Homo sapiens: one gene and its partners. The protein of the gene in region 7 purifies or fractionates together with the protein of the main gene of each other region. This does not show direct contact. Each region holds a gene or a part of one and is shown on either strand. Other genes may lie near its edges. The genes, in order: NUDT19, ACAD10, REXO5, TBC1D9B, GFM2, CHDH and BPNT1.

Region 1 (4,834 bases), on a different chromosome or scaffold from region 7:
AAAAGTAAAGTTTGCTAAAAGTTAACAGTGTAACACATATTATCCTAACTTCTAATCTTATGGACATCAGACCCTATCAGTGCCCCTCAAAGCTCAAGTCCATCAGCACAGGGCCATACAACTGATACCCCTACTTATAGGGCTAGAAATGGCCACTGCTACAGGAACCGGAATAGCCAGTTTATCTACTTCATTATCTTACTACCACACACTCTCAAAGTATTTCTCAGACAGTTTGCAAGAAATAACAAAATCTATTCAGTAAGGATAGTAACTACAATCCCAAATAGACTCTGGCAGCAGTGACTCTCCAAAACCCCCGAGGCCTAGACCTCCTCACTGCTGAGAAAGGAGGACTTTGCACCTTAGGGGAAGAGTGTTGTTTTTACACTAACAAGTCAGGGATAGTGCAAGATGCCGCCCGGCATTTACAGGAAAAGGTTTCTGAAATCAGACAACGCCTTTCAAACTCTTATACCAACCTCTGGAGTTGGGCAACATGGCTTCTCCCCTTTCTACATCCTGTGACAGCCGTTTTACTATTACTCGCCTTCGGGCCCTGTATTTTTAACCTCCTTGTCAAATTTGTTTCCTCTAGAATCAAGGCCATCAAACTACAGATGGTCTTACAAACGGAAACCCAAATGAGCTCAACTAACAACTTCTACCGAGGACCCCTGGACCGACCCACTGGCCCTTTCACTGGCCTAGAGAGTTCCCCTCTGGAGGACACTACAACTGCAGGGCCCCTTCTTTGCCCCTGTCCAGCAGGAAGTAGCTAGAGCAGTCATTGCCCAATTCCCAACAGCAGATGGGGTGCCCTGTTTAGAGGCGGGATTGAGAGGTGAAGCCCCTGGACTTCCTGGGTCCAGTGGGGACTTGGAGAACTTTTCTGTCTAGCTAAAGATTTGTAAATGCACCAATCAGCACTCTGTAAAAACGCACCAATCAGTGCTCTGTGTCTAGCTAAAGGTTTGTAAATGCACCAATCAGTACTATGTAAAAACGCACCAATCAGTGCTCTGTCTAGCTAAAGATTTGTAAACGCACCAATCCGCACTCTGTAAAAATGGACCAATCAGCACTCTGCAAAATGGACCAATCAGCAGGACATGGGCAGGGCCAAATAAGGGAATAAAAGCTGGCCACCCAGCCACCAGCACCCAACCTGCTCTGATCCCCTTCCGCTGTGGGAGGTTTGTTCTTTTGCTCTTTGCAATAAATCTTGCTGCTGCTCACTCCTTGGGTCCGCACTACCTTTATAAGCTGTAACACTGACCACAAATGTCTGCAGCTTCGCTCCTGAAGCCAGCGAGACCACAAACCCACCAAGAGGAACAAACAACTCCTGACGCACCACCTTTAAGAGCTGTAACACTCACTGCGAAGGTCTGCGGCTTCAATCCTGAAGTCAGCGAGACCACGAACCTACCAGAAGGAAGAAACTCCAGACACATCTGAACATCTGAAGGAAGAAACTGGACACACCATCTTTAAGAACTGTAACACTCACTTCGAGGGTCCGCGGCTTTATTCTTAAAGTCAGCGAGACCAAGAACCCACTGGAAGGAACCAATTCTGGACACACCAGGAGCTGGAGACGAGCCTGGGTGTGCAACACAGAGAGACAAGACCCCCATCTGTACCAAAAATAAATAAAAATAGGAAGACTGGATCATATTAAGTCTGTTCTCCAAGAAAACCAAATTAAACGGCTGTGGAGATGTACTATGTCTACACATGTACAAGTGCTTACACAGTGGCCACGCTGGAGGAACCACGTGGAGAGACAGGCTCCAGGCCTTGAGACCCCAAAGCCTAGGAAAGCAGAGAGCACTTCACCAAGAGCATGGCTTTGGTCTACAGGGGTGAGAGTTTCCAGCCCGTCTAAGCGTTCCTTGCTGCTTAATCTCTCTGGGCTTGGCCTATGCGGGGGTCCCTTGGGGGCCTGGGCCGCTGGGAGGGGTCCTCCCTCTCACGTCCTGGCGGTCCGCAGCAAGGCCCTGAGCAGGCCTTACCTGGTAGCCCACCACCTCCGCCAAGTCGGGGTAGACGGGCGGCGGCTCGCGCAGGCAGCACAGGAAGAAGGCCGTGTCAAAGCGGCGAGTGGTGCCCCGCAAGAAAGGGGTGAGCCAGGCGCTCCAGTTGTGCAGCGCCCAGATGTCGGGTGTGCAGTCGAGGTGGGCGCACAGCCGCAGGAAGTGGCGCGGGTCCTGGCGCACGCGGTCGCGCCAGGAGGCCAGGCCCGGCGGTGGCTCCAGGGCGAGGCCAGGCCCGGGTGCTGGGCCTGGTGGGGAAGTCCTGGGCCGCAGCAGCAGCACGCCCGCCTCCTCAAAGGCCTCCCGCACGGCGCAGATGCGGAAGGCTACGTCCTCAGGCAGCGTCCCAGTGTTGTCGGTCTTGTGGTCATCGGTGTCGGGCAGCGACGGGAAAGCGGTGCGGCTGAATGGCGCCGGGCCCAGGCCGAAGCGCGGCGGCCCGTGGTGCGGCGCGAAGAGGCCCAGCCAGTCCGCCGAGCGGTCGGCCGCATCCAGCACTCCGCCGGAGAAGACGTGCGCGCCCGGCATGAAGCCTTGGTGCGGGGAGCGCTGCAGCAGCAGCAGCCGGAAGCCCTCGGCCGGCGGCGGGCGCGACGGCGGGGTGGCGGTCTCCGGGCGCGACCAGCCAGCCGCCAGGACGATGCTGGCCGCCCGCCGCCAGCGGCTGGGGCCCGGCCGCAGGGAGCTGCTCATGGCGCGCAGCTTCCCGGATCCGATTCTGGCGCGGCCTGAGCTCCACGGCAGGTGGCCCGGCCCTGCAGGGACCCCAGCACCTCCGGGGGCCTCGCGGGAATTGAGGACGAGCCTCTGGCGTTGGGTGAACCTGGGCGTTTGGTCGGCAACGGCGCCTGCCTGTGGGAGGGGCACCCGAGCAGGGACCGCCTCGAGTGCACTGGGGCCCAGCTAGGGCACTCTCGCGGGACAATGGGTGTCACGGCAGCCAGCGACCGTTTGTCATTCACAGCTGCCTGAAAGGAGGACCGCAGTATTCCCACGCAGGAAGCTTGGACCAAAAGCAGGAATGCTTAAGGGCGCATATGACTTGCCATGGTAAAAAACAGGATGCCAACCCAGGCCTGATGACATCCACCTCACTAAAAGCTAAGGACTAGGACTTTCTGCTTTAAACAAGGACCCACATGTGGGTGTTTTCTGTGGGAGAGGGAGAGAGGACATTCGAAGGGCAGAAGTCTGACCTTTGCAAGCACACGTGAACCACACCAATGAGAAATGAATGGACGAGCCAGATGCCAATTTATAAATTTCCTACTGCACACCTTGAATGTGAAAGGTACTCCCAGAGTAATTTCTCTCGTGTTCTGGTTACCTTTTATTGTCAGGGCGCCTGGGGACGGCCTTAGGTGTCTTAGGACATTTGACGAGTTCCACTTTGATGGGAGATGTTTAATCTGGGCCTCCACATGGAGATTTCTCTCCACCTTGTTAGTGTCTAGAAGACTTCCACCTCCAATAGCAGGATTATGATCTTTTGAAAAGCCTGTGTAAATTTGAGTCTTTTCTTTTATAACTCCTTATCAGTCACCGACAGCTTTTCCCATAATTGCTATTATAATTGGATCACACATTTGTTATGTTTTTGGATGAAATACACTATACCCCTGCCGACCCTCACAAACCATCATTTTAATGTGGGTTATTTCCTGGGTAGAATCCACAGATGACATTGTCAATATTTAGGGGTTTTGTTTGTTTTTTTGTTTGAAGAGACCTGGTCTCTGGCCAGGCGCTGTGGCTTACACCTGTAATCCCAGCACTTTGGGAGGCCGAGGTGGTCGGATCACCTGAGGCCAGGACTTCAAGACCAGCATGGCCAACATGGCAAAACCCCGCCTCTACTAAAAATACAAAAATTAGCTGGGTGTGGCGGCCCGCGCCTATAGTTGCAGCTACTCAGGAGGCTGAGGCAGGAGAATCACTTGAATCTGGGTGGAGGTTGCTGTGAGCCAAGATCCTGCCACTGCATTCCGGCATGGGTGACAGAGCGAGACTCTGTCTCAAAAAAATAAATAAATAAATAAAATAAAAATACAGAGCAATGGAGAGAAAGGCACTCAGGTGATTAAAGTAACATGTCTTCAATACTAGGAGTAATAATAATCCTAGGGGATAATAATATTAGTAGTTACTGGGTACAGTGTGTGAGGCACTAGGAACTTTATTAGTATTAGTTGTGTAATTCTTACAAAACCCCATGAAGTGGAAACAGTTACCACTATTTTACAGATGACTAACCATTTATGGAGGGATTAAGGGTCTTAAGAACATACTACTCCCTTTGCTGTAAAATAACACCGTGGTTTTGTAGGTGAATGTGTGTGTTTCAACATCAGCTGGTTTTCACAGAAGCTGGTTACTCATGAGTGAGATGACCAAGTCCTGGTCCTGGGTGCATAGCAAAACAACAGAAACTGAACCTTTTTTTTTTTTGAGAGGGAGTCTGGCGCTCTCACCAGGCTGGAGTGCAGTGGTGCGATCTCGGCTTACTGCAATATCTGCCTCTCGGGTTCAAGCAATTCTCCTGCCTCAGCCTCTGGAGTAGCTGGGATTGCAGGCGCATGCTACTACGCCTGACTAATTTTTGTATTTTTAGCAGAGACAAGGTTTCATCATGTTGGTGAGGCTGGTCTCTAACGCCTGACCTCAAGTGATCTGCCTACCTCAGCCTCCCAAAGTGCTGGGATTACAGGTGTGAGCCACCACACCTGGCAGAAACTGGACCTTAACCAACACAGAACAGTGTCCAAAATGTGCACACTGCCATGACTGTCATATTT
Region 2 (4,035 bases), on a different chromosome or scaffold from region 7:
AACTCGCAACCTCAGGTGATCCACCCGCCTTGGCCTCCCATAGTGGTGGGATTACAGGAGTGAGCCACCACACCTGGCCCAGATTTACAATTTTTAAAGAATACTCTGACTGGAGGGTGAAGAAAGAATTGGAGAGAGGTCTGAGAAGAGGCAAGGGGGCCAGTTAGGATCCATGGGCAAGATGGTGGCAGTGAGAATGCAAAGAGGTAGATGAGATTTTCAGGAGAAAGACTTGACAGCACAGAACTAGATAGGGCGAGGTGAGGTAGAGATTGCAGAAAGTCAGAGGCGAGTCCCAGCTTTCTAGCTTGGGCAGCCGAGTGGGCGATGGAGCCCTTGACTAAGTAGCCAGGGAGGGAGGAGACACTGAGGTCAGTTGTGGGTGTGATTCGAAGTGCCTGTTGGAGATGGGTTAGAGATGTCTGGCTGGCCCCTCTGAGCTCCAGGATGGAGGCCTGGTTGGGAGGCAGTGCAGGCAAGTAACGCCCTGTGCCTTCTTCCCACACAGCCTCAGCCTCACCATGTGTGTCAGGAGCTGTTTCCAGTCCCCCCGTCTCCAGTGGGTGTGGAGAACAGCCTTCCTGAAACACACCCAGCGCAGGCACCAGGGGTCCCACCGATGGACACACCTTGGAGGCAGCACCTACAGAGCGGTGATTTTCGACATGGGCGGAGTTCTCATTCCTTCTCCAGGGAGAGTCGCTGCAGGTGAGCTATTGATTCTGTTTCACTTTGTGGGACTAGAGTGGTGGTGGGAGAATGGAGGGTGATCGGGAAGGCAGAGGGGAACACTTGGGCAGCAGTGTGTCCCAGCAGGCCATGCTCTGGCTCTCGAGTCGAATTCCAAGCACCACTAGGGGGCTGAGTGTCTTGGGCGCATGATTCAGCTTCTCCAAATCTTACTTTCCTCATCATTAAATGAGCTAATGGTAGTGCCTTCCTCCTTGGGATTTGGCGGAGAGTTATCCGTGGGAAGCACTTGCTTAGCACAGTGATTGCTCAGTGCATCCTAAATTCTCAATCAATGATGAGCTGCCATGAATGCTGTGATTAGAATTTAACCACCAAGGCAGGGCACAGTGGCTGAAGCCTGTAATCCCAGCACTTTTGGAGGCCGAGGTGAGAGGGTCGTTTGAGCCCAGGAGTTCAAGACCAGCCTGAGCAACATAGTGAGACCCCGTATCTGCAGAAATTTAAAAATTATCTGGGCATGATGACAGGCACCTGTAGTTCTAGCTACTCAGGAGGCTGAGGTCGGAGGATCACATGAATCCAGGTGGTTGAGGCTGTAGTCAGCCGTGATCATGCCACTGCACTCCAGCCTGGGTAACAGAGCAAGACCCTTACTCAAAAACAAACAACCAAAAATCCCAAAGAATTTAACCACTTCTTCTTGGGAACTGTTCTACTTCTGAAATCTAGAATGCTGAAATTCCCCTTTTGATTACAGCCTTCCTCCCTTCTACCCCACTCCCTCTAAACCTGCTTCTGGACTGACAGGGTAAGGGTCAGCCCTCTGGTCTCTGGTCTTCTCTTTACCAGCCCCTTCCTGGTTTTACTTCTTTTCTACTCAGTTCAGTTTTTATTAGTTAAAGTCGTTTTGGCTTCAAGCAGTAGAAAACCTAACAAAACAGTGACTGAAACAAGCTAGAAGTTTCTTTCTCTTGCACATAAAAGCCCAGGTATGTGGTCTGGGGCACTGTGTGATGCGACTCTGTGGTATCAGGGACTCCGACTCTTTATAGCATGTTGCTCTGCTGTGACTTTTCATTTCCACTCTTACATTGTGGTCTGTCTTGGCTGTGTCGCCTCCTGCTATCATATTCTCATGCCAGCCAGCAGGAAGGACAAAGGGCCAGGCAGCCATCCCTCTCCTTTTGACCTTCTGTGGTGGCTGGTTGGCCAGTTCTCCATCCTAAATCAACCCAGGCACAGGTTTTCTATGCCTGCGTGTCTAGGCTTTCCAGCACTGCTGACCAAATTACTCAGCCGTGCTAACTGGCTGCACAAGCTGGTTTCTGAGCTCCAGCCTCAGTTGGGCCATTGGTGCTACGCCTGAGCCTCTCTGTTCCTTCACTCTTATCTCTCTGTTCCTTCACTCGTATCTCTGTCATGTTTACCTCAGGGGCTGTTCCAGACTGTCCACTCCCCCTGCTCCTTACCACCCCCAAATATTCTTGCTCTGCAGATAGCTGAATCTGTTCTTCTACAAAGAACATAAAGACTAAACCTGAGCAACACAGTGAGACCCTATGGTGAGCTAGGATTGCACCACTGCACCCCAGACTGGCACAACAGTCTTTTTTAGAGAACCTGTCTCTAAAAAAAAAGGCAGCAGGGAAGAACATAAAGATCACTGGACAGAAAGTTTCTTGACTTTCTCTAGAATATCTTAAGAACCAATTCACTTCTCTCCATTGCCACTGCCTCCACCCTTGCCTTCTCTCACCCAAATGATGTCATCAGCCTCCTAACTTCCTCTGCCTCTGGCTCTCTGGATTTTACAAAATCTCCTCCCAGCTCCAGAATTAACCTTTCTAAAACATGGATCGTGCTTCTGCGCTTAGCAGCTCACACCTGTAATCTCAGCAATTTAGGAGGCCGAGGTGGGCAGATCGCTTGAGCACAGGAGTTCAAGACCAGCCTGGCCAACCTGGTGAAACCTTGTCTCTACGAAAAATACAAAAAGCGTACCTGGGCATGGTGGTGCATGGATGTAGTCCCAGCTACTTGAGGGGCTGCGGTGGGAGGAACTCTTTAGCCTGGGCGATTGAGGCTGCAGTGAGCTGAGATTGCACCACTGCACTCCAGCCTGGGTGACAAAGTGAGACCCTGTCACAAAATAATAAATAAAATAAAAATAAAGCATAGATCTTGTTCCTTTCATCCCTGGCTTGAAAATCTTGAATGCCTGCATGTGGTCCCCTAGATTAAGTCTAGAAGCTTTCACCTGGGATTCAGGGCTCCTCTCAGTTTTAGCTTTCCTGCTATGGACTACCTGATGCTCCCCAGGCATGCCAGGCACATTTGCATGTTTGTGCCTTTGCAAGCTGTGTTTCCTCCCTGCCTCCTCTGCCTGTTCAAATCCTACTGATGCTTTTAATGGCAAATTTAAGGGGATATTATTCAGCAATGACTGGAATCTTTTGAACACTCAGTAAATCTCATGGTTGTTACTAACTTCAAGAGTCCTCTTCTGTCAAGACTTCTCCAACCTCATTTGCAACCTGGGCAGAATGTTCCTGGATAGCCAATTCCCATTAAGTTTCACCTTCACCGAGATATTTTTGTTTGCAGTGGGATATGTTCATGTCTCCTCTATGGGGCTCTTGGATTCCAGGACCCCAGGTCTGGGATTTCTTCACTTCACTGTTGCAGTGTTAGCTCTGCAGGCTGGCTCAGTCATTCAGGAAATGTTTGATGGGTAAATGTGAACAAAATAGTGATGCCTTCTACTTTGTCTTTTGCTTGACTGGAGCTTCTAATGTTATTTATTTCAAATGAACCATATCAAGGGTCATTTGATAAGAATATACTAGAATTGGCCAGGTGCGGTGGCTCATGCCTTTAATCTCAGCACTTTGGGAGGACGAGATGGGCGGATCACTTGAGGTCATGAGTTTGAGACCAGCCTGGCCAACATGGCAAAATCCAATCTCTACTAAAAATTCAAAAATAAGCGGGGCATGGTGATGGGCACCTGAAATTGCAGCTACTCTGGAGGCTGAGCAGGGAGAACCACTTGAACCCGGGAAACAGAGGTTGCAGTGAGCTGAGATCATACCATTGCGCTGCAGCTTGGGAGACAGAGCAAGACTCTGTCTCAAAAAAAAAAAAAGTATATATATATATACACTAGAATTACTGTACTATACTATTTTTTTTTTTCTTGAGATGGGATCGCGCTCTGTTTCTTAGGCTGGAGTGCAGTGGTACAATCATGGCTCACTGCAGCCTGAAACTCCTGGGCTCAAGCAATCCTGCCTCAGGCTCCCAAGTAGCTGGGACTACAGGTGTTTGCCACTATGCCTAATT
Region 3 (3,354 bases), on a different chromosome or scaffold from region 7:
CACATCTTAACCAAAAAGCTTTTACTGGCAACTTGTGGTCACTTTTTAACCTGTTCCTGTTAGCTTACCCACAAGCCTGTTTAAAGTATGTTGGTCTAAGATTTTTTTTCCCCTCAATGTAAGCACCTAATACTTGTTTCTGCTTTTCAGAGAAAGCGGTTCTTTCAAAGGTGCCCAGTAGGTAGACCATCTCCCTAATGGTCCTCAGATGCATGTTATAAGAACTTTATGCTAGGAAATGAATTTCTTCTGATCCACCTTCAAGGCCAGAGGTATTCATGCTCTGTCAACTCCTAGAATGTAAGAATCTTTTTTTTTTTTTTTTTTTGAGATAAGAGTCTTACTCTGTAGCCCAGGCTGGAGTGCAGTGGTGCAATCTCAGCTCACTGCAACCTCTGCCCCCTGGGTTCAAGTGATTCTCGTGCCTCAGCCTCCCAAGTAGTTGGGACCACAGGCACACAACACCAAACCTGGCTGGGTTTTTTTTTTTTGTTTTTTTTTTTGTGTGTGTGTTTTTGGTAGAGACAGGGTCTTGTCATGTTGCCTAGTCTGGTCTTGAACTCCTGAGCTCAAGTGCTCCGCTCACCTTGGCCTTCTAAAGTGCTAGGATTATAGGCATGAGCCACTGCGCCTAACCAGATGTCAGAATCTCAAGGGACTTTTAAAAATTAACACAACCCAAGGTTTTCACACTGTTCAAAAAAGCCACCATCTTTCCCTCCCTTCCCCAATATACACTCATTCATTTAGCTGCCCACTCACTCATTCCAAAACTGCCCATCTTTATGCTTTAAGATTTAATATCAGTTTTTCTTTAAAGAAAGGGTTTACAGTTAAAAGGGTTTGAAAATCAACTGATTTATTCCAAATCCCTCATGTTACTAAAAGGACATTGAGACCTACAGTGGGGAAGTAGCTTGGCCACTTGTCAGAGGAGATAGGTGATAAAGCTGCAACTAGACTCAAAGTCCTGCTCCAGTATTCCTCAGGCTTAGAATCAGCAAACCAGGCCCTGTTATCTCTTAAAACATAGGTGTCAATGGGGAAAAGGGTACAGAAGGCAGGAACACATTCCTCACATGTAGAGTGGTTACACCTAAGCCTAGGGCTTGTTCTGAGACTTTACTTTTTTTACTCAAGTGGGGTTAGCAGCTACTTCTTACTCCAGAGAGCAGTAAGGACATAAGACTCCTGGTTTTAACTGGGGATAAATTATCTCCTTGAGGGACCAATAAATGTAGTTATACAAGAGCATATAAATGTGAAATGGGAATACAATGCCTATCTTTTAGAACGGTGAAAATTAAAGAGATGATTCATGTAAGTCCTCACTATGTGCCTAAATATCAGCAAAAGGCTTTTTCTCTAAGAACAGCTGAAATCCAGGGGACAGAGTCCTGAAGGGATACCCTTTCTAGTCCTTACCTCTTGGTTCCTGGCAGCAGGATGAGGCAGAGAGTGCCCGGGCACAAGCTGTTGTAGAGCTTTCCAATCTTCCGGCTCCAGCGCCAGGCTGCTATCTTCGGGTGGTCCAGTTTCAGAGTCTGGGATCAAAGCCATGTGTCGATACTCAGCCAGAACACTCTCTCGTTACCTTTGGAAGGGCTGCAACACTCTTCCTCTGCCTCTAAGGCTATGGGATTCCAGTAAAGGTTCCAGACAAATCCCTTTTCTAACACTGGAGCCCACACTGCAGGTTCTCTGCTGACCCAGCATCCCCAGGCCTCCAAGTTGGCTAAGGACTTCCTCAGGGGAGGACAGCTACTGTCCTTTCCTCCACATGGGTCTTCCAAGACCCCAAGCTAGGGGAGCCACATTGCTGATGAGGGGTCTAGTCTGGCTTCTGCCATTAAGTCTCTTTGTGACCTTGGGCAAGTGACTTACCAACTCTAGCCCCTACTTTTCATCTGTTAAGTATGAGAGATTAGACTAAGACAGGGTTTCCCAAGCTTCAGCCATTTACCTTCTACCTCCACTCTTCTGCTTGTATATCCCTCTAACATTTTTCCATAAAGTGAGTTAATTTCTTCCTTAGCCTTGTCTAACTAATGCCATCCACAAAATCATAGGCTCAATGTAGTTATTGTATACTTTAACAAGTATTAGCAAAACAAGTCCATTCAGATGTCTTAGATATAATAAAAAGACGGACAAGTCCATAATCATAAAAGTGAAAACAAAAAAGAAAAGACCATCTATGACAACCACAATTTATCTTGTGTATATACCACACTTTGGGAAACCCTAGACTAGATCACTGAATAATTGTCCAGCTCTCTGACTTCCTGCCTTTGTCCTTCAAAGTCCCTTGGAGATCTGGAAGACTAAAAAACTAAGTTTAGCAGGTATGGTGGGGGCAAAAGTATGAGAGATCTGCGAGAAAAGATGTGGCCAGGACTGGAGGAAGCTGGAGAGTGAAATAAGACTGAGGGCCAGGGTAGAAAAAAAAAAAAGATTAAAGGATTAAGTGTCACTGAGCAGGACTCTCCTGACATCTTCTCCAAGACGCCTTCACTCACTCACCTGCAAGGCCTCCTGTTCAAAGGGGGGAGGTACAACACGAAGCCCTGGGAGCCTTGTTGATTCAGGTGGTAAGCCTCTGAGCCAGGCATGGAGGTGCCTGGGGGTTAGGGCATGCCTGCCTTTCAGCTTCCAGTCCTTGCCTGTGAGAATGTTGAGGGCCTGCTGGGCACTGCCAAAACTTTTGAATTCTGAAAGCAAGAACCCCCACCTTATGTTATTAAGGGCCAAGAAAGCTGATCACCATCCAAGCTGCCTGGCCAGGGTCAAAGGAGAAGGACAGAATCAGGAACTGCTGCCCTGGTCCAGCCCAGGAGGTGAATCTTCCTTTCTCTGACCTCATGTTATCACCATCCCCAGTTTCCTTCCCCAAAGCTACATTCAGTAGCATAGACTTACTCAGGAAACAGTATTTTTTCTGCTTTCCACTTTTAAGATCTTTAGGCAAGATCACAGCTTCCAGGCCAAGAAAGAGGCGGGGCTCCTGCAATAGCTGTTCTTTGAAGGTTTCACTCACTCCAGACAGATATATAGAGCCTTGGTTTTCAGAATCTCCTTCCAGCTCATTCACGAGGGTGTCACAATCAAGCGTGAGCTCTGTCACAGGCCTCTGCACCTAACCAAGGAAAGTTGGTGTTAGTGGTAGAAAATCAATTTAATCCTCAGGCCTATTGGATACTAGCAAGTTGTTGCCATTACTAATAACTTCATTTTTCAGTTTCCTAAAATTTTCCGTTTCTTTTCTTTTCTGTAAAAGGAAACTAAAGATAATGGCCTCACAGAATTATGTTAGAGACTTAATTGATAAATACATATTTTCATGTAAACATATTC
Region 4 (4,035 bases), on a different chromosome or scaffold from region 7:
CCACATTATCCAGGTATCTGCAAAGGACAGAGGACAACAGTCCAGACCACGCCCAGGCAGAGGGAGCCTCCTTCCCACAGCTGGGTGATGCGGAGGGACCCAATCTTTATGCAGACTCCTAATAAGGAGTGTGCAGAGGACTGGGCACCCTGCAGGAGGGCAGAGGTGTGCCCTGGCAGCGCCCCCAGCAAGTTGGGGAGCCCTCTACAGGGCAGTGCCCCCGACAAGGCCTGAGCACTAACCCTGAGGACGCTGGGCTGTTTTCTTAGTCAGTGGGGGGGTCCCTTGGGCAGGAACGCCTTATAACCCCAGATCCTACCCAGTTGGAAGGATGACGAGCTTCCTCCCTTTGGCGGGGCCCTGGGGATGTGGGACCTTCTCGCCCTGGCCAAGAAGATTCAGGGATCAAAGGTTGAGTCGCAGGAGAAAGTCAGGTGTGGGGAGGCCTGCTGCAGCCCAGGGAATCAGCTTCTCTAGGGACACAGTCCTGGGGATGGAGCCCTACCTCTGTCAGCTGACCTAGCCCCGCCAGAGTTCATGGCCTCTCTGGGTCCCTGGGCTGAGCCTGACACTCAGGTGGGAGGAGGTAGCTGACTCCCCATGCCCATAGCCCTGGTCATATCCCCAGTCAGACCCCTGCTCTGGAGGAGGCCCTATCCGCCTATTGTAGGAAGCGGCAGGAAAACCAGCCACAGACTCCGGCCACAGGCTGAGTATCTTAACATCAGTGTGGACCAAAAGCTACTTAGGCCCACAGTAGGGAGGTGACAACCCTGCTGGATCTAGAGAGTCCCAGGCAGCACCTGGCCTGGCCATGGGCAAGTGGCAGAGTCCCAGGCTGTTCCTGGGGGCTGGGGGCATTCCAGTCCGGACAAATACGCTATGTAGGAGGGTGGGACTGCACAGAGCTCAGGGCAGGGCAGAGTGTAGCCAGGAGGGGCCGGGGCTTGAAGGCCAGGCTGGAGGCTCAGACAGTGCCTTTGTACAGAGGACCCAGGGAAGGGGCAGGGCCAGGTCTGATCAGAGTCATGGGATGCAGGCAGGTCAAAGACTGAGAGGGGAACCCCAGGGAAAGGGCATGGTGGGCCTGGGCTGAGGCAGCAGGCTGAAGGGAAGGGGCTGGATCCCAGACAGAATCTGCAAGAGATGGGATGTGGGGACTAAGGAGGGGGTGGAGGGGCTGGGATGACCCTGGACATTTGGCGTGACTAGTGGGACATCAGCTCATCCAGCTGTTCCAGCGGGCCCAGGGCAGGCCTGCTCCCTCCAGGGCATGGGGGCTGCAATGCAGCTGAGCTTGGAGAGGTATGACCGGGACCACCTGGTGGACATGAAATGCCCAGCTGTGCCACCAACTGGAATTGTGGTCACTGGATCTTGGCTCTGGTTTGCCCTCAGGGGAAGCATCTCCAACCCTACATCTGAGCGGTGGCCCTCCAGCCAGCATGCTCTGCCCGCAGTGCCTGCTTTACTCCTCCTGGCACCTATCACTGAGCGCTGCTTCATCTCCCACTAGAAAGGAGCCGCCTCCTGACCCCAGAGCACCCCCGGGTCCAGCTGCAGCCTGGCACTTGGTGGGCACAGTCACTTCAGGCTGACTGGACAGTGCCCGGGGCTGGTGAGGGGTTCTGCTGTGAGCCCCCAGCAGGAGAAGGAACCCGGCATGTCACCTGCCCAGCATGGTCATGGCCTCGCCCTCGTCGCTGCAGCCCAGCAGCTGCTCCATGTTGGCGTCCAGGACGGCCAGGGCCACCTGCAGGATCACCTTGATGCCCTCATAGAAAAAGCAGTCGACGATGACCACGGCGCTCTCGAAGGGCATGACGCTGAGGAAGAGGGTCAGGAACCAGGACAGCGAGATGCTGGAGATCACCCCCAGGTCCTGCATCTTCTCCGAGAGCTGCGGCAGGAAGTCTCTCGTGAGCTCTTCGAAGATGCCTTGGTCCACCAGGGCTCCTGCGGGCAGGATGAGCGAGGCTGATGGTGAGCCCACCCTGTGGCCTGGGTGGGCCCTCACCTGCAGCGTACGAGCCCTGGCCACTCCAGCCCTGCCAGCTGTGCAGTGAGGGCTGAGGGAGACTTGGAGTGCTGGGAGAAAACAAGGACGAAAAAACCCTTCAAGTCTCTCTACAGCTCCCAAACCACTGGGCGAAATAACTATTTCTTCTACTACACTTGAATTTTATTTTGGGGAAATACTGATTTCTCCGTAAGGCATGAGAGGTAAACAGCACCCTCAATGACTCTGTCCCATCCTGATGATTGTGAATAGACGCAGCTCTGAAGGACCCCAAGAGCGGTAACTCCAAACACCAGACAGCAGGGGAAGGACAGGATAACATGCTTAAATATGAACCTAATTAAACACTCTTGCAAGTCCATTTCCACTTCATAACAGATTTCACTGGATATGAGTTCAGTAAAGTTGAGCATCAGGTTACATGGGGGATATATACTCTCTAGTTTTGATGTTTGAAATTTTCCATAATCAAAAAGTTGACAGGAAGTTAGATGGATAGGAATTTAGGCTCTGAGGGGACTTTTATAAACCACCGAATGTGTAATACTACCCTCTAACTCCTAGGGAACCCACGTGAAGCCTGGAGCTTGGCCTGGGAAGGGCTGCCACCCTCATGGAACCAGCAGGCACCTGGAGACCCAGGCGAGGCAGCACCCGGGGACACTCACCCACCACCCTGGTGTTGTAGTAGTCGGGCAGCATGCGCTCGCACAGGGCCACCAGGAGCCAGAAGGCCTCCTCCTCACTGCCATAGAGCAGGAGCACCGAGGTCACGATGTTCATTGCCTGCCGGGCACAGAGACAGCCGGGGAAGGCTTGCACTGCTGGCCAGCAAATAAAACTGTCTCTCCCCACCCCTCCCAGCCACCCCTCCCTGCAAGGGCCCACATGATCTTCTTTTTGTTGTTGTTATTTTTATTATTTTTCAGGTTCTCGTGGTGAAGATTAATGGCCTCCTCCTACAAGCAAATCTGCCTCTTCAGGAGGGCTGGGCATCCGGTAATGAGAAACTGCCCCTACCCAACTCTGGGAAATGTCAAAAGGCAATTTGTAGGAAACTGATGGAACAGAGAGTCTGCCAACTCCTTCAAACTGGGTCAGAAGGCACTGGGAAACCAGAGAAGGTGAACATCAACACATCACACTTCTGCGGAGTGGTGTTGGGTGTTGGAGGTGGGATTATGACCAAGCTGATGTGGAGGTGAGCCACAAGGCCAGAGCCCCACACCAAGGCCACCCACTCGGTGCACAACTAGGACCACACACAGCCCTAGCTGCTAACAAGACCTTTAAGGCAAACAGAAAGCCATATGACTTGGCCAGGAAAATGCCTAGATTTAAAATCAAAAGCTGCGAGAAATGCTAACCTAAAGTACAATTAGATACCCTCATGCCCATCACTCTAACAACAACAGAATATAGCAAGTGTTGATGAGGATGTGGAGAAATCGGAACCCTTGTGAACTGCTGGTGGGAATATAAAATGGTGCAGCTGCTGGGGAGGAAGTATGGAGTTCCTCAAAAAATTAAAAATAGGCCAGGCCACAGTAGCTCACACTTTGTAATCCTAGCACTTTAGGAGGCTGAGGAGGTCGGATCACTTGAGCCCAGGAGTTCAAGACCAGCCTGGGCCACACAGTGAGACCCCATCTCTATAAAAAATACAAAAAGTAACTGGGCGTGGTGGTGTGTACCTGTAGTTCCAGCTACCCAGGAGGCTGAAGTGGGAGGATCGATTGAGCCCAGTAGGTGGAGGCTGCAGTGAGCCATGATCATGCCACTGAGATCCAGTGTGGGCAACAGAAGGAGATCCTGTCTCAAAAAAAAAAAAAAAAAAAAAAAAAGCCCAGGAATGGTGGCTGGTGGCTCACGCCTATAATCCCAGCACTTTGAGAGGCTGAGGCGGAAAGATCACTTGAGCCTAGGAGTTTGAGGCCAGTCTGGGCAAGACAGTGAGACCCCATGTCTAAAAAAAAAATATTAGCTGGGTGTGGTGGTACATGCCCTGGGAGGCT
Region 5 (4,035 bases), on a different chromosome or scaffold from region 7:
GGATGTTTGTTAAATATTCTATAGTTATATTCATCTGGATTTCAGGATTTTTCATAAGCTCAAAATATTTTGTGGCTATAAAGAAAGGTCATTGTTTTACTCCTATTGTCACTAAAAGCTTTGTACTTAAGTAATAAGTCCTTTAAAATCTGAGTAAGCAATGTGTAAAATGGCAGAGAAATGGACTTTAATTATCTTAATCCTGACATTAATAACTTTTCATATCTCTAAATTGGAGAGGCATGATGGTGAAGAGCACAGGCTTTGTACTATTGGATTTAAATCCTAGCTTTTCCAAGTTCCTTAACATCTCATCTATAAAATGCAAAGAATAGGACCTATCTCATGGTGTTCTTATAAGAATTAAATGATTAGTAAAGCACAAAGAACAGTGCCTGGTATAGTAAGCTCTATATTAGTATGTATTAAAGTTAAAAATTGGAGGGAATGGGAATAAGATTGGAGAAGTTCTGTCATAGAAGTGTTTAAACTACTTTAAGTCAGGAATTCCTTTGAAACTAATGAAAATATGGAGCTCTCCTTAGATGCGCAAAATTTGGCAATTGCAGGAGAACTCAATTCTAAAACTTACCAGTGATTACCAGTTTAAGAACATCATTCTGTTAAGAGTGTTGGTTATGTGAACAATTTCAAGTTTATAGTATAGATTTTTATGGTTATGTAATGGACAGAAAGTGGAAGGAGAGCGTAAAAGCAGTAATTGGAAAGTACCTATTTATTTACCCTGTGCAGATTTCTTGATAAGTAGTGTGATATTCCCAGGTATAGCCTTCATGGGGAGAGCTCTTGGCAATGAAATTATTCACAAATAGAAGTAATATTTGGAAGAGAATCTGTTATTTTTAGTTTTGAGGAATTAATGGTAAGATCTCCATTGAGTAATTTAGTCAATGGAAGAAGAGAGTTACGTAACAAAGACATTATTTAGTGGCTCTAAGTAGCTCTACTAGAAGATAAAATAGATCTTTGGGGACATTAAGGTTAAGTTTCTGCAGTTATGGGAAGTGTATTTTATAGGCCTTTTTGGAATGTTTATTTTATAGGCAGTGGTATAAGGATGACTTATGTGCATTGGCATTTAAAGTTCTCCATGACAAGCAGCGAGGACCACTGGTTTTTATGCGCATTTACTCAGGCACTATAAAACCCCAGTTGGCCATTCATAATATTAATGGAAACTGCACGTAAGTAGAAGCTTAGATTATTTTATAAAACTGTATGCACTTCTTTAAAAATACTTTTACTAACATAAAATTGTGATTTTACAGGGAGAGAATAAGTCGTCTGCTTTTGCCGTTTGCTGACCAACATGTAGAAATCCCTTCATTGACTGCTGGTAACATTGCTTTGACTGTTGGGCTTAAACATGTAAGTGACCAAATGATTTCTCTAGGAAATAACAGCTTAAATATTTAATTACAAGTAAGCAACTTGTAATATCAAAAACCCATAAACAATCCAAATGTCCATCAATAGTAGAATAAAGAATATTATGGCATATTTGTCAACATGGCTGAATCTCATACATTTACTAGGAAGAAAAGTAGATTACGGAAGACCACAGACGGGATGGATTGTATTCATATAAAGTTCAAATCCAAGTAAAATAACATACTGTTTATGGATATATATGTATATACATATATGTGTGTTTTAAGTTTATATAAAATATTGTTTTGTTCCCATTGGGTTTATTCCTATCTTGAGCATTGCAAAAAATTTAACCTAGACTTATAACTGATCAGGTTATAATGTTTTGTTAGTAAAGCCTCCATGAGAGCAAGGATTTTTGTCTTTTTTGTTCAATGCCCTACAGTCCATAGATCAGTGTTTGCATATAGTAGACACTCCATAGATAATTGTAGGATGAATCGATGAAAATACTTGATGTTGTATTTATTTTTCATGGGTTAAAACTAAGGATATTTCATTTATATGGATTAAATCAAATATTTTCTCATTGACCTTTATGTAGTAAGCATTGTTATTTTAAACATTTTAACTCTTCATGACTAGTTTCAAGTTTGAAGATCCTTCAGTAGAAAATTCCTATAGGCTGGTCACTGGACTTCTGGCATTGGAATGTCCCCTCTATCTCCCTGAAGGCAGGAGCTCCTTGTATGTATTTGAAGAAGCTCTACAAATACATTGGGACTATTGCTTCAGTAGGATTGTTTTTACAGAGAAGGAAACTGGCACAGAACTTCACAATATAAAAGTTTAGAAGTGAAATTACAGTTTTTAAAAGATAATTGGGCTCTACATGGAAGCCAGCAATCTGCACAGTTAAGGGTATTCTGGTTAATTATATATTTTAGTTAATAGGAGATTTTCTGTAAAAAAGGAATAAATTCTTATGGGTGGTAGAACACTCTAATGGACTTCTCCCTAACCTGTCTTGTCATGATTGAAAATTTAGGAAGGTACATTTGTTTTGCCAAATGATTTTGGATGTGTATGTGTGTGTGTTTTATTGTTTGTTAGAATTTATTACAACAGTATTTTGGATAGAATTCTTATGCAAGTTAAATTAGCTTTACTTATGCAAAGTTATTAATGAGCTTTTTGAATTTTATTTCTCTTTTAAGTTCTGATGAAAAGAAAGGGCCACAAAAAAGTTTTCTTATATTGTGGTTCTTGGTGTAAGATGAGCGCTTGCTAAATGCCACTTTCGTTCCAAGTCATCTTGTTTGCTTGCAGACTGCCACTGGAGACACCATTGTCTCATCCAAGTCCAGTGCATTAGCTGCAGCTCGTAGAGCCGAACGGGAGGGAGAAAAGAAGCACAGACAAAACAATGAAGCAGAGAGACTTTTATTGGCTGGAGTGGAGATTCCAGAACCTGTTTTCTTCTGTACCATAGAACCCCCATCACTGTCTAAGCAGCCAGGTATAAATGGTCTTAGTGTGTCAACTAATTAGTGCGCTGATAATTTATATAAAATAGTTGCAATATACCCTCAAGAGATTTCTTATGTGATTGAGGTAAATTTTATCTGAATATATTGGTAAACATTTCTTGTGGTTGGTCTTGTTTTTTAAGATGTTTTGATTTTTACAAATGCCTTCATTTTTTTCTCTTCTTATTTCTTGGCCATTCTTCTCATATTATATTCTTCCTTACTCTTGTAGTGCTATCTATGGGATTCTAAGTAATTGGCCTTAGAACTGCCCTTCTAGTATATTAGATTAGACAGTAACTGATTCATAACCAATTCAGTTTGTCATCATCATGTATAAAAATGCTGTTTTACCTTGTTTTCTACCTCAACCTCTAGAACTCAATGAAGATATTTATATACTGTGGATAATCTTGTTTGACCTTTTGTTAGTAACTTTGTTCTTTAGCATTTTAGCTCAGATTTTTTTCAGTGGCTTCTCATTACTTCTAGCACACACCCAAACTCTTTAGTGTGGTATGTAAAACCCATGATTCCAATTATAATTTCCAATTAGATTTGGTTACATATAGCAGAAAACCCCCAAATAACAATTGCTTTAATAGGACAAAAATTTATTTCTCTCTATCTCCTAACAGAAGCCTTGAATTGGTAGTCAGGGATTAGAGTGGCTCCACAATGTTATCAGGGATCCAGGCTCTAATCTTTTTGTCCTGCCTGAGTGCATAGCTCCTGGAGCCTTGGGCATCACCTTGGAGTTCCTGACAACAGAAAGGAGTAAGGGGAAGGAAGAAGATAATACCCCTTTTCTCTTAAGATTTCTTCTATGTCATTGGCCAGCACTGAGACATATGGCAGCCTGTTGCAAGGAAGTCTGGTAAAAGCAGCCTTTTAAGTAGGCAGCAGCAGAGTAGAGTGGAAGGCTGCTAGTAGTCTCTGCCACAGCCTTCTTGCCTGGCTTCATTTCTTGTGAAACTTCCGCCTTCATTTTGACCCTCTTCTTTAACCCAAATTAGAATAAAACTATAGTACCTAGCCACACCTTATGCTCCCACAGTAAAATAATTGTGATTTCCTGAAGGTACCGTGCTCTTTTTTGCATCGCTATTTCTTT
Region 6 (4,780 bases), on a different chromosome or scaffold from region 7:
TTCTCCCAGGGATGGATCAGGCAAAGAAGCAAAGGTCGGAATAACAATGACAGAATCTGGGGATTACCGTGACTCTTGGGTCCTAGGGAATTTCCCCCCCCACCTTTTTTTTTTTTTTTTGGTTCTGCCTCTCCTGCCCCTAAATTTACACAGCACTCTTAAATCCTTCAACTTGCTTTCCTATCTGCTGTTTTGCTGTTTCTTCTGCGTTTCCTAACAGCCCTGCTGGGGAGGCAGAACTGATGTCAGCCCCATGTTACAGATGGAGAAACAGGTTCCAAAAGACTAAGAGCCTCACTCAAGGCCAACAGATGGTGAATGAGCCGCAGAACCAGGTGGTCTGGAAGCCAGGCATCTCACCGCGCTGTGGCTGCACAGAGTCTGTGCAGACCCTAGGGTCTGGGTCAGGGCCATAGGTACTTGACCCAGTGATCTTCCAGGCTCTGGCAGAGGCCCTGACCTTTGCTCTGCTTGTGAAGAAAGAGGAGGAAGTTCAAACCAGCTCCCCTGGGTGGGCAGGCTCAGGCACTGGCCTTGGATGAAGGTAGGTGTTAATTTATTCATCCATTCAAGCATTTAATGAGCACCCCCTACAAAGCCCCCCCGGACAGGAAGGCACACTGGCTGGTAGCTCTTTCAGAAACCCAGACCTAGCAGAATTTATGACTGAAGGGAGAAGGTCAGAAAATGTCCAAAGGTCGCTTCTCTCATAGACTCAAATCACTTCATCGCCCCTATCACCACCCCATTTTACAGAAAAGGAAACTGCTCTGAGAAGAGCAGTGACTTGCCAGAGCCTCCAGTTCAAAAAGCCACAAAGTCATCAGGCTTAGGCAGCCAAATAAATTGTGTGCCTTCCGGCAGGCCACCTGGGACCTCTCATGCAGGGCCACTTGAGGCATGGCCTTCTGAGCTAGGGGGGAAAACCCCCGAGGGGACAGGCAGACACACCTGTTTGCCCACCTCAACCTCCAGTTGTGGCTACAGGGCCCTTCACACCCTCTCCTCCACTCCACAGCCCCAACTACGAAACTGAACCAGGTATCACCCCATCCCTAAGCCCCAGGGGGCCAGGGCAGTGTCATTCTGAACCCAGAACAGCAGGAAAGCCACTTGGCCTGGGTCTTGGGTCTCTGCCTGGCAGCCCCTGCCTGAGTACTCCTCCTTCTTACAGCTCAGCCACCTCCAGACCACCCTCACCTGACACTTCTTCCCCTGGGGGGAGAAAGAACCTCAGCCCTTCTCTTTTTACAAAACCCCCTCCCCTATCCTTTTGCCAAGGCTTCCTGTGACTGCCACCAACCAGCCTCAGTGCCCTTGGTCTCTCTGCCCCATCTGACCCCATGAGCTCCTCCCTCACTACTGGGCTTTCCTGCTGCAGCCCCTTAGACCTCCCCACCTCCTCAGGCAAGCTCTCCTCCCCAGGGCTCTATCCTCCTCTCCTCTCCACTGCCCCCTGAGAAAGTCTGACTCATGAACCCTGTCTCCAGGCCTAACCTCCGCACCCTGGTTGTCTCAAAGCCTGTGTGCCGAACAACACCAAGCTCACAGCAGGGCCTGCCCTGGCACACAACTGAAAAGCCAGCACAGCCCAGAGCCTGGCCCACAGCACAGAATCAGATACTCACGGAATGAACGCATGTTAGTGAATGGCTGCCTGCTCGCTCGTCTCAGAGGGACTAGCCCTCTATTTTGCCCTGCAGAGCCAACCAGGTGGCCTTTCTAAAACCAAAAATGGATGACCATTTAAGCCTGTACCATTGTTCCTCAGCACCATGGGACAAAGTTCACAATCTTGAGCTTGCAGACGAGGCTGTTTTCATCTGGGCTTCCGCAGCAAGGCGGGTACTTGTGTCCTTGAAAATAATTCTCACTGCACTCATCCTCACTCCAGGAGTACCCATCAGCCAGCACCCATGTGTGGTTCACCTTTGCACCCAGCAGGTATTTGCTGAACAGGAAGATGACTATTAGAGCTGAAAATGTTCTCAAGGGCCACAGGGCCCAAAGCAACTCAGAGAGGTGGAATGAGGGGCTCAGGGTGGCCCAGTCCCAGGCAGGGGTGCGGCCACAACCTCAACTGAGTTCCTTGGTCAGGAAACAGAGCAATTCTCTGAAAATGCTACCTGCAACTCCACACGTATGCATGCCAGAGCCCAAACCCCTGGCTGATCCCCAGTCCATGCAAGCCTTAATCAAGCTGGCAGGTGGGCCAGGCCTGGCACACAAGTAGGGCCTCAGCTAAAACAGCTGCTTGACTTAGTACAGCCTCTCACCAGCTGACAACACACCCCTAAGTTCCATACCCCTCTCTAGGCCTCCGTCTTCTCATCTGTAGAATGGAGCTAATTCTGCCTACAAGTTTAAATGGCCCTGAGTTGGTCACCACAACCCTGTCGTTTGCAAACCGAGGGGGCTGAAGCAGCAGTTCCAGCCTCTGTGACTCCACTGTTAGCCCAGCTGATTTTTGTGAACTTTCCCCCAAACCCACTGTGTCTCAAAGGATGGTCCCTGGGCCACCCACCCACGAATTACGGGGGCGTGGGTGGAGGCTCGTTAAATGCAGATCCCGGGCCTGACCCGGACCTGCCGTCTGGATCTCATTTTAGGCGGCGCTAGAGATCCCGGGCCAGGGAAACTTGAGAACCGCAGCTCCAAATCGCCAGTGCTGACGGCTTCCGCTTTGGGAGCCCCAGGTGTTGCTGTCCGAACTCACTTGGTGGAAACAGACATTTACCAGAAAGCCTGGGGTCGGGCAGCGGGCACTCCTACCGCTCTAACCCCGCGTAGCTGAAAGAATTCGCTCCCTCAAAGGAGTCAGTGAGCTTCGGCAGTCTGCGTTCCACCCGTTTCGCTTCGCGCGGCGGGGCGATTGTGTAAAGCGGGCCCGGGTCTCGGCGTCCAGCCCGGCCCCAAACCTCCGGCCCCCAGGCCTCTCCGGGCTAGCGGCCGGGCGGCGCTGCTGCGGGGTGGTCGGGGCGCCTCCGCGGCTACTCACCCGGGGCGACTCGGCCGAGAGCCCGACAGTCGGGACCGGAGCGGGAGGAGCGGGTGGCCGCGGCCCGGCCCCTGCCCCGCGGCACTTTAACCGGCGGCGCCGGCGCCCCGCGCGCTCTCTGCGTCCGGAATGGGGACGCAGCAGTTCCGACCCGGTCGGCCCCGGAGCCGCGAGGCTAGCTGGGCTCCAGCGGAGGCGCGCGAAGCCCGAGGGCGGGTGCAGCTGATGCACCTGGCTCACTGCATGCACGTGTGCGCGGGGGTAGGCGCGCGCCGCGGCGGCCCGTGCTCCGCCAGCGCTCGGACACGGCCCATCCCTCCGAGCCCCAGCAGGCGAGGGCGCTGCGACCTGCCCCAGCCTGGGAGGGGGCCAGCGGGCCCGCCCTCTGTTCGGGTGGCGGGAATGGGTCGGCGCTGCGAGAGGCGGAGCCGAGAAGGGGCGGCCCGGCGGCGCCGGGATAAAAGCGCAGCGTGCGGGTGGCCTGGATCCCGCGCAGTGGCCCGGCGATGTCGCTCGTGCTGCTAAGCCTGGCCGCGCTGTGCAGGAGCGCCGTACCCCGAGAGCCGGTAAGCCCCCGCCAGCACCTCTTCCCTCATCTCCCGGCCCTCGAGCCCAGATCCTGACGTCGTCTGATCCGCCAGTCCAGGCTGCCCCGAAGGCGTGCGCGGACTGCCGGCTCAAGGGGCATGCCTGCACCCTCAGGGCAGCCCCGGACATCGGCGTCAGGTTGCTTGAGTCAGGGGCGTGGGAATCAGACAGACCCGGTCTCAGATGCCACCCTGTACTGTTGGTTCTGTCATTTATGCTCACCAAGTTCCAAGTCCCGAACGGTAAAACGAAGGGCAGTACCGAACCCACCAGGGTCTCTTAAGGTATAACGACATGGCCTGCAATTAGCGGCGAAGGGCCTGGCACGTAGTTATTGTTACTTGGGGTCTGCTCACCTGTTGGGGCACAAGAACTGTTTCTCCATTAGTACCCCCTCCCTTTTTGGCCATATTGATTGCCATGTTCACTCGTGAAGGCAGTTGCCTTTCTTCCCCAGTACCCTGAATGATCGAGGGAATCTTCTGGGTCACTGAAGAGAAAATAGCTCATCCCCCAAATAACCTTTGAAATGATACCGCTGCCCTCTTAGAATAGCATATAGCATCAAGCTCCGTAGTCACCTGCTGGTGGACAAACCCCATTCACTGTTTCCTGATGTCTTCAGCTCCTATCCTTCCCCTCTGTGTCAGTTCAGAAGCCCTCTTGGCTCTTTGCACTAAAGGGAAGAATTCATCCCTTTTGCTGTAGTTGCTGCAAGGCCAACAATTTGAGCTTGGTAGCATTTAGGGTTGTTGCTTGGCCTCTCACCGGCCGTTTGATAAGAACTCAGCTCCTGGTATGATGGCTCATTTGTTAAAAAAAAAAAAAAAAAGTCAAGTCTGGCCGGGCTCGGTGGCTCACGCCTGTAATCCCAGCACTTTGGGAGGCTGAGGCGGCCGGATTGCCTGAGGTCAGGAGTTTGGGAACAGCCTGGCTAACATGGTGAAACCCCGTCTCTACTAAAAATACAAAAAGTAGCCGGGCATGGTGGCAGGCGCCTGTAATCCCAGCTACTCCGGAGGCTGAGGCAGGAGAATCACTTGAACCCGGGAGCCAGAGGTTGCAGTGAGCCGAGATCTGCGCCACTGTACTCCAGCCTGGGTGACAAAGTGAGACTCTGTCTCAGAAAAAGGAAAAAAAAATCTGATGATATCCCTTAGAGTTCATTTTTTAAAAGACAAATAAATGATTGAC
Region 7 (4,718 bases):
AGCCGATTCTCCTGCCTCAGCCTCTTGAGTAGCTGGGACTACAGGCACAAGCCACCATGCCAGGCTAATTTTTGTACTGTTAATAGAGATGGGGTTTCACCATGTTGGCCAGGCTAGTCTTGAACTCCTGACCTTGTGATCCGCCTGCCTCCCAAAGTGCTGAGATTACAGGTGTGAGCCACTCCGCCCGGCCTGAGTTGCTAAACTTAAAAAAAAAAAAAAATGAGCCGGGCATATTGGCGGGCGCCTGTAACCCCAACTTCTTGGGAGGCTGAGGCAGGAGAATTGCTCGAACTTGGGAGGCGGAGGTTGCAGTGAGCCGAGATGGTGCCACTGCACTCCAGCCTGGGCGACAGAGCAAGACTCCGTCTCAAAAAAAAAAAAAAAAAAAGTTGAGTCCTTTTTGCATTCTTTTGATATTTTGATATAAATACATTTTGATATAAATACATTTCAATGCATGGTTTATAAAAGTAAAAAAAGAAACCATAAAAGCATGGAAATAAAAATTATAAACTTCATAAGCTTGGTAAATGCCCTTTAAGCATAAAACCAAGAATCCATAAAATATTCTATTGATAAATTTGACTCTATAAAACTAAGAGTTGCTGGGCGCGGTGGCCTGTAATCCCAGCACTTCGGGAGGCCAAGTCGGGCGGATGACGAGGTCAGGAGTTCAAGACCAGCCTGACCAACTTGGTGAAACCCTGTCTCTACTAAAAATACAAAAATTAGCCGGGCTTGGTGGCACGCGCCTGTAATCCCAGCTACTCAGGAGGCTGAGGCAGGAGAATTGCTTGAACCTGGGAGGTAGAAGTTGCAGTGAGCTGAGATCATTTGCACCATTGCACTCCAGCCTGGGTGACAGAGCGAGATTCCGTCTCAAAATCAATCAATCAATAAATAAAAATAAAATTAAAACTTCTACATGGCCAAAATACCATAAACTAAATAAACAGGTACTTGACAAAATGAGAAAAAAATATTGTATCACATACCAGACAAATGACTTAATTTGTAAAAGATCAGTATATAAAAGCTGAATAATCCAATAGAAAAATGAGCAAATAAACAAGAACGGGCAACACCTACAAAGAGAAAAGCACTGGCCATTAAATACATAAATACTCAGCTTCACTAATTATGAAAGAAATGCAAACTAAAACAATGAGAAATGATTATTTTATTTTTAATTAATTAATTAATTTATTTATTTTTTGAGACAGAGTTTTTGCTCTTGTTGCCCAGGCTGGAGTGCAATGGCGAGATCTTGGCTCACCGCAACCTCTGCCTCCCGGGTTTAAGCGATTCTCCTGCCTCAGCCTCCCGAGTAGCTGGGATTACAGGCAAGCATCTCCACACCTGGCTAATTTTGTATTTTTAGTAGAGACAGGGTTTCTCCATGTTGGTCAGGCTGGTCTCGAACTTCCGACCTCATGGCCTGCCTAAGCCTCCCAAAGTGCTAGGATTACAGGCGTGAGCCACCGCGCCGGGCCATGATTGTTTATTTTTAAGATTGGCATAGAAAAGAAAATTTGGCAGGGCACGGTGGCTCACACCTGTAATCCCAGCACTTTGGGAGGCCAAGGCAGGTGAATCACCTGAAGTTAGGAGTTCAAGACTAGCCTGGCCAACATGGTGAAACCCCATCTCTACTAAAAATACAAAAATTAACCAGGCATAGTAATACAAAAATTACTCAGGAGGCTGAGGCAGGAAAATTGCTTGAACATAGGAGGCAGAGGTTGTGGTGAGCCGAGATCGCGCCACTGCAGTCCAGCCTGGGCGACAGAGACTCCGACTCAAAAAAAAAAAAAAAAAAAAAAATTGTCGCTGAATGCAGTGGCTCACACCCGTAATCCTAGAACTTTTTGGGAGGCCAAGGCTGGTGTATTGCTTGAGCTCAGGAGTTCGAGACCAGCCTGGGCAACATGGCAAAACCTCGTCTCTACAAAAAAATGCAAAAATTAGATGGTGTGGTGGCACATGCCTGTAGTCCCAGCTGCTCGGGAGGCTGAGGTGGGAGAATCACCAGACCCTGGGAGGTCAAGGTTGCAGTGAGACATAATGGCACCACTGTACTCCAGCCTGGGGGACAGAGCTAGAACCTGTCTTAAAAAAAAAAAAAAAAGAAAGAAAGAAAGGCTGGGCGCGGTGGCTCACGCCTGTAATCCCAGCACTTTGGGAGGCCGAGACGGGCAGATCACGAGGTCAGGAGATCGAAACCATCCTGACTAACACGGTGAAACCCCGTCTCTACTAAAAATACAAAAAAAATTAGCCAGGCTTGGTGGTGGGCGCCTGTAGTCCCAGCTACTCGGGAGGCTGAGGCAGGAGAATGGCGTGAACCTGGGAGGTGGAGCTTGCAGTGAGCCGAGATTGCACCACTGCACTCAAGCCTGGGCGACAGAGCGAGACTCCGTCTCGAAAAAAAAAAAAAAAAAAAAAAAAGAAGGAGGAGGAAGGAGGAGGAAGAAGAAGAAGAAAAAAGAAGAAAGAAGAAGAGTTTGTCCTTTGTCCAGTTTGCAAGGGTGTGAGGGAACATGTTCCTGAGCATTGTTGGCAAAGCGGTGAACCCTCTTAGGAGAGTTTTGAGAACCTTAATAAAAGTATAAAGTACGTATCTTTTGAACCAACAATTATATTTACAGAGAAATCCAAATAAATCACGCAAACCTATAAATATGTAGAAATGGCAGTTGGAAGAATATTTGCTGTTTAAAGAAATTTAATTTTAGGTACCAAGCAGTTTCTAAATTTGGGTGCATCAACAAACTCAATGTCTAGGTTTGTCTTGTTTCTACAGTATATGGCTATAAAAACCTTCCGGATCACGAAAATAAAAGCACAGATAAACAATTAAAATATCGACACTCAAGAGTCCAAGTCGGAAGTTAGAATATCTGGAGAAGCAATCTGATTCACATAAACCTTTTTCGTTTTATTTTTTTAACATAAATCCTATCTACCTGGCTCTTGCCCTGACCGGCCGGAGAGAAACGGTGACAAACCTGGAACAACGTTGGACCAAAGACACTTCAGGAGGAGCAAAAGCGCGTTATCGTAGACCCAGGTCCCTCGTTGTGTCCAGTACCGAGCTTTGGCACTGTCAATAAGTCTTTTGAGAAGGATGGCATCCCTACCTCAGCTACTGAGCATGCGGGAAACTGCGCGCAAGCGCACAACAGCGATTTCACACTGCCTCTTTAGACTCCTGATCCGCGGGAAAATTCCACTTGTCCGTGTTTTCTCCAAGCTCTCCGTAGGTGCAAGTCACCTGTTGCATTAAATAAAAGCGAAAGATGTGTCAACTTTCAAAGATTGGCTAAAAAAAGAAAAAGAAGAAGGAAAGAACACATTAAGCCAGCAACAGTGTGTTGAAACAAAAAAAAGATTGGTTTTGGTTTCAGCTGTCTTCCAGCCCACTTCGTAGAGTTCACTGTTTTAAAATGTTCTTTGTATTAGTGATACCACTCTGCGGCTATTTAACTTCGAACCCCTAGCGGTCCGTGGACAGGCTTCAGCAGGTCCACCACACACACCTCCACCTCCCACTCCCCACGCAATAACACAGCAACTTTATGCAGAATTGTGTCAAAGATGCTTGCTTACCTTTTTTTTTTTTTTTTTTTTTTTTTTTTTAAGCGATAGATAGCTTGCTCTGTCGCCCAGAGTCGATTACGGCTCACTGCTGCCTTCCCACTTCTAGGCTCAAGCCATCCTCCCGCCTCAGCCTTCCGTGTAGCTGGGACTACTGGTGGAGGTGCGCGCCACCACACCCAGCTAATTAAAATATTTTTTGTGTACAGATGGGATCTTTTACTGGGGGGCGTGGTTGGGGAAGGGGGCAGTGTCTCATCCTGTCGCCCAGGCTGGAGTGCAGTGGCGCAGTCTAGGTTCACTACAACCTCCTCCTCCTGGGTTCAAGCGATCCTTCCTCCTTAGCCTCCCAAGTAGCTAGGACTACAGGCGCGCCACCACGCCGGGCTAATTTTGTTTGTTTTTTAAGTAGAGACGGGGTTTCATCATATTGGCCAGGCTGGTCTTGAACTCCTGACCCCAGGTGATCTGCTCACCTCGGCCTCCCAAAGTGCTGGGATTACAGGTGTGAGCCACTGCGCCCAGCTTAAAAAGGCTTTTACGTCTTCATTTGATTTTCACAATAACTCTGTGAGTTAAGTAGACCCTTTTTGGGAAGTGGAAAAATATACATAACTTAAATTATATTACTTTAACCATATATATATATATATATATATATATATATATATATATACACACACACACACACACACATATATACATATATATATTTTTTGAGACGGCGTCTTACTCTGTCGCCCAGGCTGGAGTGCAATGGCTTGATCTCGGCTCACTGCAACCTCTGCCTCCCAGGGTTCAAGCTATTCTCCTGCTTCAGCCTCCTGAGTAACTGGGACTACAGGCGCACACCACCCAGCCCAGCTAGTTTTTGCATTTTTTTTTTTTTTAGTAAAGACGGGGTTTCACCATGTTGGCCAGGCTGGTCTCGAACTCCTGACCTCATGATCCGCCCGCCTCGGCCTCCCAAAGTGCTGAGATTACAGGCATGAGCCACTGCACCTGGCCATACTTTGGTTTTTATAATTAAATTGTATAATTACATGACAAGTACAAATGGCTTAAATAAAGACAAACATAATGCAAGGTAAGCTCAACAAGTGAGAATAGAAATCTGC

Evidence for each region.
Region 1: the proteins of BPNT1 (region 7) and NUDT19 purify together in Homo sapiens (affinity purification with mass spectrometry; 2 studies listed by BioGRID and IntAct, with this or other methods). This does not show direct contact.
Region 2: the proteins of BPNT1 (region 7) and ACAD10 purify together in Homo sapiens (affinity purification with mass spectrometry; 2 studies listed by BioGRID and IntAct, with this or other methods). This does not show direct contact.
Region 3: the proteins of BPNT1 (region 7) and REXO5 purify together in Homo sapiens (affinity purification with mass spectrometry; 2 studies listed by BioGRID and IntAct, with this or other methods). This does not show direct contact.
Region 4: the proteins of BPNT1 (region 7) and TBC1D9B purify together in Homo sapiens (affinity purification with mass spectrometry; 2 studies listed by BioGRID and IntAct, with this or other methods). This does not show direct contact.
Region 5: the proteins of BPNT1 (region 7) and GFM2 purify together in Homo sapiens (affinity purification with mass spectrometry; 2 studies listed by BioGRID and IntAct, with this or other methods). This does not show direct contact.
Region 6: the proteins of BPNT1 (region 7) and CHDH purify together in Homo sapiens (affinity purification with mass spectrometry; 2 studies listed by BioGRID and IntAct, with this or other methods). This does not show direct contact.

Annotation. Positions count from the first base shown.
Region 1 is NC_000019.10:32,689,859-32,694,692, reverse strand, and holds the start of NUDT19 (acyl-coenzyme A diphosphatase NUDT19 precursor), read right to left. Parts: upstream 2,873-4,834; 5' UTR 2,733-2,872; coding exon 2,019-2,732; intron 1,729-2,018; exon of another isoform or gene 599-1,728; intron 1-598. UniProt on the Homo sapiens protein: Fatty acyl-coenzyme A (CoA) diphosphatase that hydrolyzes fatty acyl-CoA to yield acyl-4'-phosphopantetheine and adenosine 3',5'-bisphosphate.
Region 2 is NC_000012.12:111,692,189-111,696,223, forward strand, and holds part of ACAD10 (acyl-CoA dehydrogenase family member 10), read left to right. Parts: intron 1-508; 5' UTR 509-521; coding exon 522-708; intron 709-4,035.
Region 3 is NC_000016.10:20,844,411-20,847,764, reverse strand, and holds part of REXO5 (RNA exonuclease 5), read right to left. Parts: intron 3,137-3,354; coding exon 2,920-3,136; intron 2,712-2,919; coding exon 2,524-2,711; intron 1,545-2,523; coding exon 1,426-1,544; intron 1-1,425.
Region 4 is NC_000005.10:179,873,232-179,877,266, forward strand, and holds part of TBC1D9B (TBC1 domain family member 9B), read right to left. Parts: intron 2,807-4,035; coding exon 2,689-2,806; intron 1,957-2,688; coding exon 1,671-1,956; intron 18-1,670; coding exon 1-17. UniProt on the Homo sapiens protein: May act as a GTPase-activating protein for Rab family protein(s).
Region 5 is NC_000005.10:74,735,672-74,739,706, reverse strand, and holds part of GFM2 (ribosome-releasing factor 2, mitochondrial), read left to right. Parts: intron 1-1,064; coding exon 1,065-1,205; intron 1,206-1,289; coding exon 1,290-1,389; intron 1,390-2,721; coding exon 2,722-2,911; coding exon of another isoform or gene 2,912-2,943; exon of another isoform or gene 2,944-3,363; intron 3,364-4,035.
Region 6 is NC_000003.12:53,843,085-53,847,864, forward strand, and holds the start of CHDH (choline dehydrogenase, mitochondrial), read right to left. Parts: upstream 3,336-4,780; 5' UTR 2,999-3,335; intron 1-2,998. Other genes in the region: IL17RB (interleukin-17 receptor B precursor), read left to right, coding at 3,505-3,564.
Region 7 is NC_000001.11:220,086,675-220,091,392, forward strand, and holds the start of BPNT1 (3'(2'),5'-bisphosphate nucleotidase 1), read right to left. Parts: upstream 3,115-4,718; 5' UTR 3,012-3,114; exon of another isoform or gene 2,970-3,011; intron 1-2,969. UniProt on the Homo sapiens protein: Phosphatase that converts 3'(2')-phosphoadenosine 5'-phosphate (PAP) to AMP and inositol 1,4-bisphosphate (Ins(1,4)P2) to inositol 4-phosphate. Is also able to hydrolyze adenosine 3'-phosphate 5'-phosphosulfate (PAPS) to adenosine 5'-phosphosulfate (APS).